Linked DNA regions of Homo sapiens. The protein of the gene in region 2 purifies or fractionates together with the protein of the main gene of each other region. This does not show direct contact. Each region holds a gene or a part of one and is shown on either strand. Other genes may lie near its edges.

The links. Proteins that work in one complex are often made in the same cells at the same time.
Region 1: the proteins of GOLGB1 (region 2) and KSR2 purify together in Homo sapiens (co-immunoprecipitation; one large-scale study listed by IntAct). This does not show direct contact.

What each region holds. Positions count from the first base shown.
Region 1 is NC_000012.12:117,454,287-117,459,778, forward strand, and holds part of KSR2 (kinase suppressor of Ras 2), read right to left. Parts: 3' UTR 1-5,492. UniProt on the Homo sapiens protein: Location-regulated scaffold connecting MEK to RAF. Has very low protein kinase activity and can phosphorylate MAP2K1 at several Ser and Thr residues with very low efficiency (in vitro).
Region 2 is NC_000003.12:121,665,112-121,670,603, forward strand, and holds part of GOLGB1 (golgin subfamily B member 1), read right to left. Parts: intron 4,245-5,492; coding exon 4,101-4,244; coding exon of another isoform or gene 4,086-4,100; intron 3,048-4,085; coding exon 2,950-3,047; intron 2,500-2,949; coding exon 2,365-2,499; intron 1-2,364. UniProt on the Homo sapiens protein: May participate in forming intercisternal cross-bridges of the Golgi complex.

The sequences.
Region 1 (5,492 bases), on a different chromosome or scaffold from region 2:
GGAGGGGCTGCTGATGCTGAGAAAGTGTTGATGAAATCATTATCCACAATAGACAGTGGCTCAAGAAATGCAAATTGAGTCAAGTTGAAGCAGATAAACAAGCCTCGCTAATTTGCAGTAGCCACATATACCCTGGGAGTCTGGCGGTCAGCAAAGATGCTTTGTTTTCTGTCTTTCAAACCCTGACATATTTATAGAGACAGCAAACACACCACTCCATCAACAGGACTGATACATTCTTTCCCACACTTCAGGCTGTATTGCAGGCTTGGCCTGTGGCCCACTATGGCCCCTAGGTCTTCTTCAGTCATTTCTGTAACAAACCAGCATTTTGCCCATCATACCTGAAATGTTTAGTTAGAGACCCTCAGTGTAGGGTCTTTCCATAAATACATTTCCACGTTCACACATGTCCTTGACCTCAACACTTCAGGGGCCTATTCATAGAGTGATATGAACTGTCCCAGAAAGAGGTTTTTTGCTGAAGAAGGTTTTTTGGTATGGCAAGACAGAACTGGGGGCCCCAGAGACATCAGAGACACAGGTCGCAAGAGTCGATAGAGGGAAAGTGAAGCAAAAGAGGAACAGGAATGAAAAATGCATTAGAGAGAAGGGCTCATGGCCAACCCATCTATAGCCAAGATGCCCATGGACTTCAGGACCCAATGCAGGGCACTAAGAAATAGAGACACATCCTTCACTGTGTGGAGGCAGGCAGAGACAGAGACAGACACAGAGACAGACAGACAGAGAGAGAGAGAGAGAGAGAGAGAGAGAGAGAGAGAGGTCTGTAGAGCCAGAGAGGGATGCAGAGCAGGCCTGAGGTGGCCTGAGTACTGGTCTGACTCCAGCAAGCACAAAACTCTCCTCAGACATCTTCCCCCACAGGACACCAAGGCTAACAGTAGGAACCAGAGCATGCTGGGGAAAGAAGTCAAGGTCTCCACATCTGAGCCAGGGCACCCTCTGTTTGGAGATGGAGACTCCAGGGTCCCAAAATCAGGCTTTGGGGAAAGCAGGGAAAGGCAGGCAAGTGCCAGGGGGCAGGATTTTAGCCACTTGCAGTTACCCTCAATAAATCATGATCTTGCCTCTGAGTCCACACATAGGCTGTTCCTTCTGTCTGACACACCGTTCCCTACCATTCTACTCAAATTTCAAGACAGGGTTCAGAAGTCTCCTCCTCTGAGAATCCTTCCTGGAGGGTCTTTCTCTGGGTTGGGAGCTCCTGTGGGGCCTCGGGACCCTACTGGAACTCCTCCCTCTCTTCATCGGACTCCTAGTACCCTGAAGGCAGCACCCACTTTTCTCCATTTTTTCCAGAATCACAGGAGGCACTTAACAAATATTTACTAAATGACTATATAAAATGAAGATTTGGGGAATGAAGGGACAAGGTTGCTCCACGCTGGGCTCTGCTGAGGGTGTAGTGAATGGGGCTGGGGACATGAGCCTTTGAAATACAAGCAAAATTTTCTTAGAATCCTTCGGCTGCTCAACTGTAGGCATTTGAAATCCACCAATGTACCCAAAAATAGGGCTATGAGGAAACTAGAGGACCGGGGCCCAGAAGCAGTGCCTTGTGGAATATGGGACAGCTATGGGAGCTCATGGAGAACAGAGACTCCAAATTGGATGCCATCTTGGAAGTGGAGTCAGAGAAGCTCATGTGACAGCATGCCTGACATGCCACCATATGGGCTTCTGGCCTCTGTGCTCCAAGCCTTGGGGCTTTATGAGGATTGATTCCAGACGCAAAGTCAGGGTGTGTTTTGATGGGGTGGGGAGTACAATCTATGATATTCCTTGATAGGTTAGGACCGCAGAGGCCCTCAGGAGGAGATAGACTTCCGAAAAGAAGGAAGAAGGAGCCAGGCAAAGATTTATGCATCACACAGTTGGGCAGAAGCCTGACCAAGGACAGCCCCTCCCTTAATGCTCCAGTCGAGCCAGGACTGTCCAGATAGCTTTGAAGGGGCAGGGTGTGCAGTGCTCCCTAGAAGGCTGGCTAGGAGGGAAAGGGGGCCGGGGCAGGGGGCCTCGGTGTGGCAGGGCAAGTACCTTAGAGTACCTTGATGCCCATGCTGTAGCTACATAGCAGTTACTTGAACTTACACAAGTTCATATGTACCCATCTAAACATTATTACTTGTAACACATGTAGAAAAATAAGCAGAGGAAAATGGCTAGAATCTTACAGGACCAATACATTACATTTGTTGTCCAGGACGCACTTAAGCTGCCAATGCCCCAACCTGGGCAGGGCTGTGTTGGGGAGAGGTTGACCCCATCTAGGGCAGAGCCCCAGCCAACTCAACTGTCTTCTTGGAAGGTGTCCCAATTCCCAAAGCAATTTTCCAAGATCTGGTCTTTTGCAGTGCCCGACTCGTCCTCTCTGTTACCCTTCCCAATCCTGGGACTGCCGGAAGCTCCAGGGATTTGATTCTAGGGGTAAAACAGCTGGACCTACAGAGGCCATCCTCACCCACTGCCTGTCTCCATGCCCAAATCAGTCACACGGGACTGGACAGAACTGCCACATCTTGTCCAGACTGTCTATGTTGTTGCTTCATTGCTACCAGAGACAGCCATTCTAACCCGGCCTGACTCTCTTCTTCACAGTGAACTGGGAATTGCAAGGAAGGTAGAAAAGGCCCTTCACTATCTGGGAGACTTTCCTTCCTGGGGAATACAGAAGGGCTTTCCCTGAGTAGCCTCAGAAAGCAACACCAAGATTGCCGGATGCAAGTCTCAAGATTTCAGCTCAGCAAGAGGATCTGCTTCTTAGAAGGGCTGTGGAAGGATGGAGAGAATGACTGGAGATTTCAGCCCCTGTCCGTGCAGACGGTGAAAGGCAAGTCCACATTCTCCTTACCTAGACAGCCTTCAAACCACTGGTGATGCTAACTAGTGCTTTAAAAACCTATTTCCCTGCAATGTTCACTTAAGGAGTCCCCTCCTTGTGTTTTCCTGTTCTCCTCTGATTTCCTTTCTCCCATGGAAGGTTGCAGATGGCAGGATGCTGGATTTGAATCCTAGTCGCGTGGCCTGGAGACAACTCAGGGGACATCTGGCAATGTCTGGAGATGGTTTTGGATGTCACACTTTGGATGTCAACTGGAGGCTTTTGAAATCCACCAACATACCCAAAAATAGGGCTATGCTGGAACTAGAGGACCGTGGCCCAGAAGCAATGCCTTGTGGAATATGGGACAGCTATGGGAGCTCATGGAGAACAGAGACTCCAAACTGGATGCCATATCAGAAGTGGGGGTCAGAGAAGCTCAGGTGACACCATGCCTGACATGCCACCATATGGGCTTCCAGCCTCTGTGCTCCAAGGCTTGGGGCTTTATGAGGATTGATTCCAGACAGCAAAGTCAGGGTGTGTCTGGGGATGTTTTTGGATGTCACCAGTACCAGGTGCTACTGGTATCTTGTGGGGAGAGTTGAGGAAGCTGCTTAACATCCTCCAATGCCCAGGACAGTCGCCACCTCAAAGAATTATCTGGCCCCAAATAGCTCAACAGTACTGAGGTTGAGAAACCCTGGCTTAGAATGAACATCTCTTTATCCTTCTCTTCCTTTAGATCTTGACTTAAATGTCACCTCCTCAGAAAGACCTTTGTCAGCAGCTCTCCCACAGTATACCCTCTCCCATGTTTCTGGTCCCCCGTGAGTTTTCTTTCCATAGATCTACATGAGTTGCAAATTTATATATTTGTGGTTGACTTGCTTCTTGTCTCTCTTCCCCATTGGGCTTTAGGCTTCAGAACAGGTGAGACATTGTATCACTCATCACTGAATGCCCAGGGTCTAACACATAGTAGATGCTCAACAAATCACCCACTGAATGAATGGTTGGTGAAGAAATCTCTGTCAGAGAGGACAGAGGTTCACTGAATTCCAGACAAACCCAGAATGCCAGCATCTGTGTGAGGACACAAAGACCTCTCTTCTACCTTGTTCATCCTGTCGCCCACCACTCAGAAAAGGCCTCTGGTTATTGTTGGCCTGTATTTATTTCCTCCTGATATCCTGGTACCAGCCTTTCCAAAATTCTCACTGTAGTGCTGGAGGTCAGGGTATTTTTAAACTAGAAGAACTAGCCAAGCTGGTTTTTTTTTTTTAAGTGGTGGAAAAGAAAAACTAAGATTTGTTTTTAATCATTAGACTTTCAAATTTAAGAAGGCGCGATGCAAATAGCATGTTGGCATAAACAAGTGCTGCCCGCTCAATGGAGGGAGGGAGCCTTTCTTCTGAGCTAATTTAAGCTAAATACATGGCAGCTATTTTTCATCTCTACAATTGTGCAACTTTCTCCTCAGTTTACAATACAGGGGAGATATTATCGGGCAGAAGTTGGATGGGGGATAAGTGAAGACGAGAAGGAAAAGAAGAGGCAGTGGACAAGAAGGTACTCTCAGCCACCGAGCTGGTGATTAGAGGTATTTCAAGAGCTCAGGAGTAGAGCTGGTGGTCCACTAGGACCTCAAGATCTTATCTGGGTGGAAACTTGATTTTGAGCCTTCCATTCAGGGAAGAAACCAAAGAGCAATTGGAGTCAGGCTCCTTTTCCTGCCCTTTATATGCAGCACCCCCTGACTTCCCAGAAGCCCAGACTGAACAGCAGAAATTTTACAAACCTCCTCAAGAAAGAAAAGCCCTTGCAGCTCTCCTGCACACCACCACGCACACTGTTATTCCTTAAGGCCCCCATATGCCGTGACTTCCAGCCCAGCTGTTACTAGACTGGGCATAGCATTCAGGCCTTGTGGTGAAGCCGTCCCAGAAGATAAATGATTTTTCTCCAAGCAGGCAGATTACCGAGTAGGATCATACACAGAGTCTTAGAGACAGAATCTTTCTTTCTGCATTTTCCAAGTTCCCTAACTGAGAAGAAACATCTGCAGAGCGCTGATAGACTGTCCACCAACTACAGCCCAAATGGCTTGGCTTCTGGAAGTTTCTGAGGCCTGAGTTCTAAACCTACCTCTGCCTCTTAGAAGGGACCTGACTTAGGGGAGTTTATTATAGCTTCCCTCTCTGGGCCTCAGATCCTGCTTCTGTGAAAGGAGAAGAGTGAGATAAGGGAGGGTCACTCATATCCATCTTAAGTGGTAACTCGAATGCCCTGAAGCTACATCTGTGATCAGTGGGAAGGCATGCTGTGATGGATTAGTGATGTCTGCCAAGAGTACAGCAGGGGACACTGGTGGTAGATCCATTACATATTTGTACTCCTTGGACCAGATCTTTATCCTTCTAGATCTTAGAGGTCCTTCTAGATCACCATCCCAATGACTTGGTTGAAGATGAAAACTCAGGTGAAAACTTAACCCTTCTGAGGGTGTTACATCTTATATACTTTTCACATTGGCCTCCAAGCCATGGTATGTTGGAGAAGCCACCAACACACAGCAGATTTGACCCCTCCATTGGAAGACACCATCAGCCAGATGTGGTGTTCTTGTTCATGGAACCACTGTCCA
Region 2 (5,492 bases):
CCACACAATGCAGCACAGGAGGAGACTTGCAGCAAAAGCTGCTCCCATAAACCCAAACCCATGCAAGGGGGGTACCAGCAGATACGTTTCCTTCAGCAGCAGCAAAATGTGACAATAACTATCAGGAATTGACTGCCTACTCACTATGTATCAGGCTCTAGGCTGGGTGCTTTACATACATTTAATCCTCAGGTTCTGAGGTTGGTCTTATTATCTTCAAAGTGCTAAGGCTTACAGAGGTTAAATTACTTGCCCATGGCGGCACAGCCAGTAAGCGGCAGAGCCAGAATTCAATACCCAACTTTGTCTTTCAAGCCTCACGTTCTTTTTTCCACCACACCACACCTGACTTGGAGAAACTCATTACATTTTTTTCTTTTATTAAAGGCTAATAGGCAAAAGCATCCAAAGAAGATTTCTGTGGGGTTTTAAAAATTAAATTGAACTAAAAAAAATTAAATTGAATTGGCAGTCTCCACTGCCTTCTGGCTCAGTTTTTGCTGATTTGCTTATTTAATACTGGAACTTCTCCATTTAATGAAGAAGCTGCCATTACTCACTCAATGGTTATGTCAAACAAACAAAGGAGCTGCATGTAACACAGCACGTTTGATCAAGCATTTGCCTATAGGGATGAACTTTTTCAATAGGGAAGAGAGGATGAAACTCTTGCCTCTACTCTTTGTGTTTTCTCCTTCTGAAAGGATATCTATTAGTTTAATATTCTTGGGCTCTCTGCAGGACACATTCTTTTCCCCGGGAGAGAAGAAACACCTTAATCCAATTTGTGAGTCTAGAAAGAGAACTGAGCATGCACAGCCTAGCTCCTTCTTTCCTGCTTCCCTCCTGAGAGCCAGGCTGACTAAAAAATACACCTTCTGTGTCTATTCCTCCATGTGATAAGCTTTTCAGAAGCAGCTTTGATCTGGAACAGCATGGTCTGTTACTATGGAGGTCAGTCTGTCAATGTAGGCTATGCTGAGGAAGGATGAGAAGTCTGTAGGTATTGATGAGGAAGATGGTACTGGCTGCCTTTAAACTGGAGGGCCACTGAGTTCCACCTGCTCTTTAGAGTACATGTGAGATTCTAACATTACAATGGCAGTACCTGGACTAGGCAGGCAGCCCTTAATTAGCTACCCCAACTTCCATTCTGCATCAGAGCTAAAGAGGGAATTGTGGCTTGAATTAATACGGCTTGCCCACAGGCTCAAGAGTCATCATCCCACACATGCAGTCTCAGTTGGTTTGGGACAGGTTAGTTACACAAGAGGGAGATCAACCTCCCCATTGGCCAGGTTTCACCGGTCTAAACAATTCAATAGCAAGTAGAAGAGAAACAGTCATGAGGGCACAGGCCTGAAAATGCTCGGCAGAGATGGCAAGACACCACACAAGGCATTAAGCAAAGCTGGCCCACCCTCAAAGCTGCATATCAAGGCCTGAATAGGTGATGAAAATTAAGAAGTTGTGAATATGTTGGATTGGAAAGAAAGGTATCTCAAGTAAGACCTGCTCAATGGGGCTGTCACCTCTGCCACATAAACTTTACAAGAAAGCATTAATATCAGAAATGTCATTCTCTGAGGAAAGTGATCATATACATAGGTGGCTTTCTCCCAAAATATAATAAAAGTGCCTGCTTTTAACGATATTTTCCGTGGAAAGGGACTTCCAGCAGCAAAATACTTGTAGCAACTCTCTATCCTCTCATGCATAGTGATTCTTTTGATGAGAATAAGGAACTAGGGATGTGTAGCTCTGCCCTTCCAAATTACACTTGGAGCAAACTGCTCATAGGAAGCACAGTTCACTCTGTTATTCCAATACTCTTGTTTGGCAAGAGCAGGATTTTCTGTGAAGGAGGTCTACCTTGGCCCAACATTGTCTGTGACTGGGAGGGGAAGTTCAGGGTTAGGAAGTGCATTTGCCAACAAATAAAAAGCTACATTCTTTTAACATCATTTATAAAGCAGTCTTTTAATCTCTCAATCTTTTAATCTTTTAAAAAAGATTTCCATGGATTCAGATCTCAGGTAGAAAATGAGGTTGTCACTTATTTGGTCCTCTAGAGAACCCAACACCTACCTCATATAGTTATGGTTAGGGTGAAATAAAATATCTTTCAGTAATGGTAGATATCATTATTATTCTCTAAGAACAACTGTTTTAGAAAACACTGACTCTCTTATACTCCAAAAGTACAGTGTTCTCTTGGGTGACCACAATGTTGGTAAACTCATTGCAGCAACTACCTCAAGATGAGAAAAAGATCTTAAGAAATCCTAAGTCTGGCAGGAAATGTACATGAGTTTGATCAGAAAGGATCGGAAGGGAACAGAGGCTATCTCCTTCAGCCTTTACCGTCTGATCTGCTCCTCGGCCACAGAGAGAGCATTCTCAGCAGCCACTCTTTGGTCTCGTTCTTCTTCCAGCAGCTTCCTTAATTCATTCACTTCCTGTCTGGTGTTGCATAGCTGCTGCTGAGCTTCAGAAAAGCTTTAGGATGAGAGGAAAACAAAAAGCATCATCAGATGCAGAAAACAGTTGCTAATACAAGGGATTCAAAGTCTTCATAAGGTTGTAAAGCAAGAAAATCCATAGAAGCTTGTCTAAACACAATATTTTAAAAGCAAAGCTGTAGAGGGATTAAATGAAGCTGCAGAAAATACCTAAAGAAATTTCAGGAACTGATTATCTTTCATTTTACTATCATAGAGTAGTTGTTAGTGGTGTGTGTGTGTTGGTGTTGCTCTTTTTGTTTTACAAACTTTTCACACACAAATGTTAGTTATTATTGTTACTATTTGATCCTCACATCACTTCTGTGAGGCTAATAAGATAACAAGACATATTAAATCCATATAAAGGACTCCAGTTAAATCTAGATTACTGCCCAATTTCTGGACTCTGGTGTATGCTCCAGGGTTTAGAGAGCCACTCCCCTACCTTTGCTGCGGTTCCCTTAGTTCCTCAGGGTCACTCTTTCTGTGAACTCCATTCTTTTCCTGGGGAGCTCCTGGAGCAACATCTATATTTAGTGGCCCCTGGAAGAAGAATAAGCTTAGTAATTCAGTGATGAAAGCTCTTAAGAAAGTGTATTTGAGCAAAATGAGAGCTCGTTTACAGAGGACTATCCCCGCTTATAATTCTCAAGTCCAAATTTAGAAGTGAGAAGCTTCTGCTCTAGCAGATTACTCACCTACATAAAACTCTTGTCTTGATTAGATTTTTCTCCCAGATTCTCATTCTTGAATTTCTCCTCTTAAAAGTTAAGTCTGGGCCGGGCGCCGTGGCTCAAGCCTGTAATCCCAGCACTTTGGGAGGCCGAGGTGGGTGGATCACAAGATCAGGAGTTCAAGACCAGCCTGGCCAAGATGGTGAAACCCTGTCTCCACTAAAAATACAAAAAATTAGCCGGGTGTGGTGGCAGGCGCCTGTAATCCCAGCAACTCGGGAGGCTGAGGCAGAGAATTGCTTGAACCCAGGAGGTGGAGGTTGCAGTGAGCCGAGATCGTGCTACTGCATTCCAGCCTGGGCGACAGAGCGAGACTCCGTCTCAAAAAAAAAAAAAAAAAAAAAAAAGTTAAGTCTGCTGTGGATGCTTATGGCTTTTCCAGAAGCCACTTTGATCCTTCCCTTGCTTGTCCAGCCCCTCCCAACCCCCTTTTCCTCCTCCGTATCCTATACGTCTCCATACTAATTCTCAGTCTCCTCCAACTTCAATGCTGTACTCCTCTCCCTGGCTGTCAACAGTGCTGCCTGTTTTGTTCTCAGATCCAAAGTTTCCTACAATTTTCTTATAACTTAAAGCAAAATCAACACTTTCTCTGTTTCAGAGTACCAAATGTCTCAGTCATCACTGTTTCCTACTCATGTTTTGATTTCTCTCCCACCATCTCACTGATCTTTTTTCTTCTAATTGCTTCACTGTAATTTTTCTCAGACCTTATTCCCATCTCAATTAACTCTTTCTTCTCTCCCACTTTCTTCCCTGACCCCTAATTACATTAACTTCTTCCATACTGCTCTGTAGTGCTTCACCACTTGCACTAAATTTCATCACACTTCTCCCAGTCTCTCACCTTCTCTTTACTCACCGCCTGCAGCTCTTGAACCTGCTTCTCCAAGACTGCACAGTGATTTAAAAGGTCACCATAGTGCTGCTGGTTCTCACGAAGACTCTGACTGGTATCGCAGAGCTGAATGGAAAGGGTGTTTTTCTCTTCCAGTAGCTGAGAGAACTGAAACAGAGGCGAGGATAAGCATCATCCTGCAGTACTGTAAGCAGTGCTGAGGTGAAATGTTCTGAGTTTTCAGGATCTAATTTTCCTATGGAAGACCTTTGTTTCAGCAACAGCAACAATAGCACTTTGTGTGCCTTCAAAGTTGGAAAAAGCATAATTTTTTTTTGACCAAGACAGAAAACAATTCTGGAGGAGTAGCAGAAAGGTTTTTTTGTTTTGTTCTGTTTTGTTTTTTTAAATGGTGCCCAGTACATTAACTGAAAAACCATGAAGCAGAAGTCCATAAGCAATCTAATTACATAGGCTATTCTGGGTACATAAGAGGGAGAAGGCAGTACCTCAGGGTCAAAGTTCATGGTACTAACAAATGACTATAATCTCCAGAACTCAATATGGCTGGAGAGAGCTGTCACCCCAAAATCTGTGCAATAATATTCCTAGGCAGATTCCTCAATGCCATAAAGAGTTATAAGTTACTGAGAGAATAGAATAAAAAATTATAATATGTGGTAGAAGGGAGAAACAGAATAAATCCCAACATGTATATGTATATGTCAGAAACTGTTGAGAGCATAGATTCTCCCAGGTAGAAACATTTCAGTCCCTTAAAGCAGGACTCTCCTCTACTGCATGACTAACAGGTCATCGTTCAGTCTTCCCTTGAACATGTTCAGTGTCAGGGCGCCCACTGCCTGACAAAGCAACCCAAACCATTTAAAAAACTGAAAATTCATTTTTATATTGAATGAAAAATTTACCTATTGTAGCTTCTACCCATTGATTTGAATTTGGTACTCTGGAACTATAATTCTCTCACTTGCAGGCTGTCAAGTTTTAAGTTTTAGCTGTGATTAGCCTCCAGGTACATTAATAACCATGGAGATGTCTCTCCAAGTTATCTACTCTAGGACCATGTACATTATATGAGAGGAACCCAGTATACCAGTTGCATGTTCAATTTTTTCTTGATGATTCTTTTTTGTAAGTTTTTGTGAAAAAAAGTTGAAACAAACAATGTTTTAGAGGAGAGACGACAGTTTTCTAGAGACAACTGTGAGGAAGGGCATTTGATGCAAATAGAAAATTAGAACAAGATAATCCATACATACTTGTAAAAGTGCTCTGTTAGCTGAAAATTGCTCTTCAGATGTAGGGTTGTTTTTTGTGTTTGTCATTCTGAAGAGCAATGTTAGCTTACAAAGTACTTTCACCAGTATCATCTTATTTGAGAGAGGTAGAGAAAGG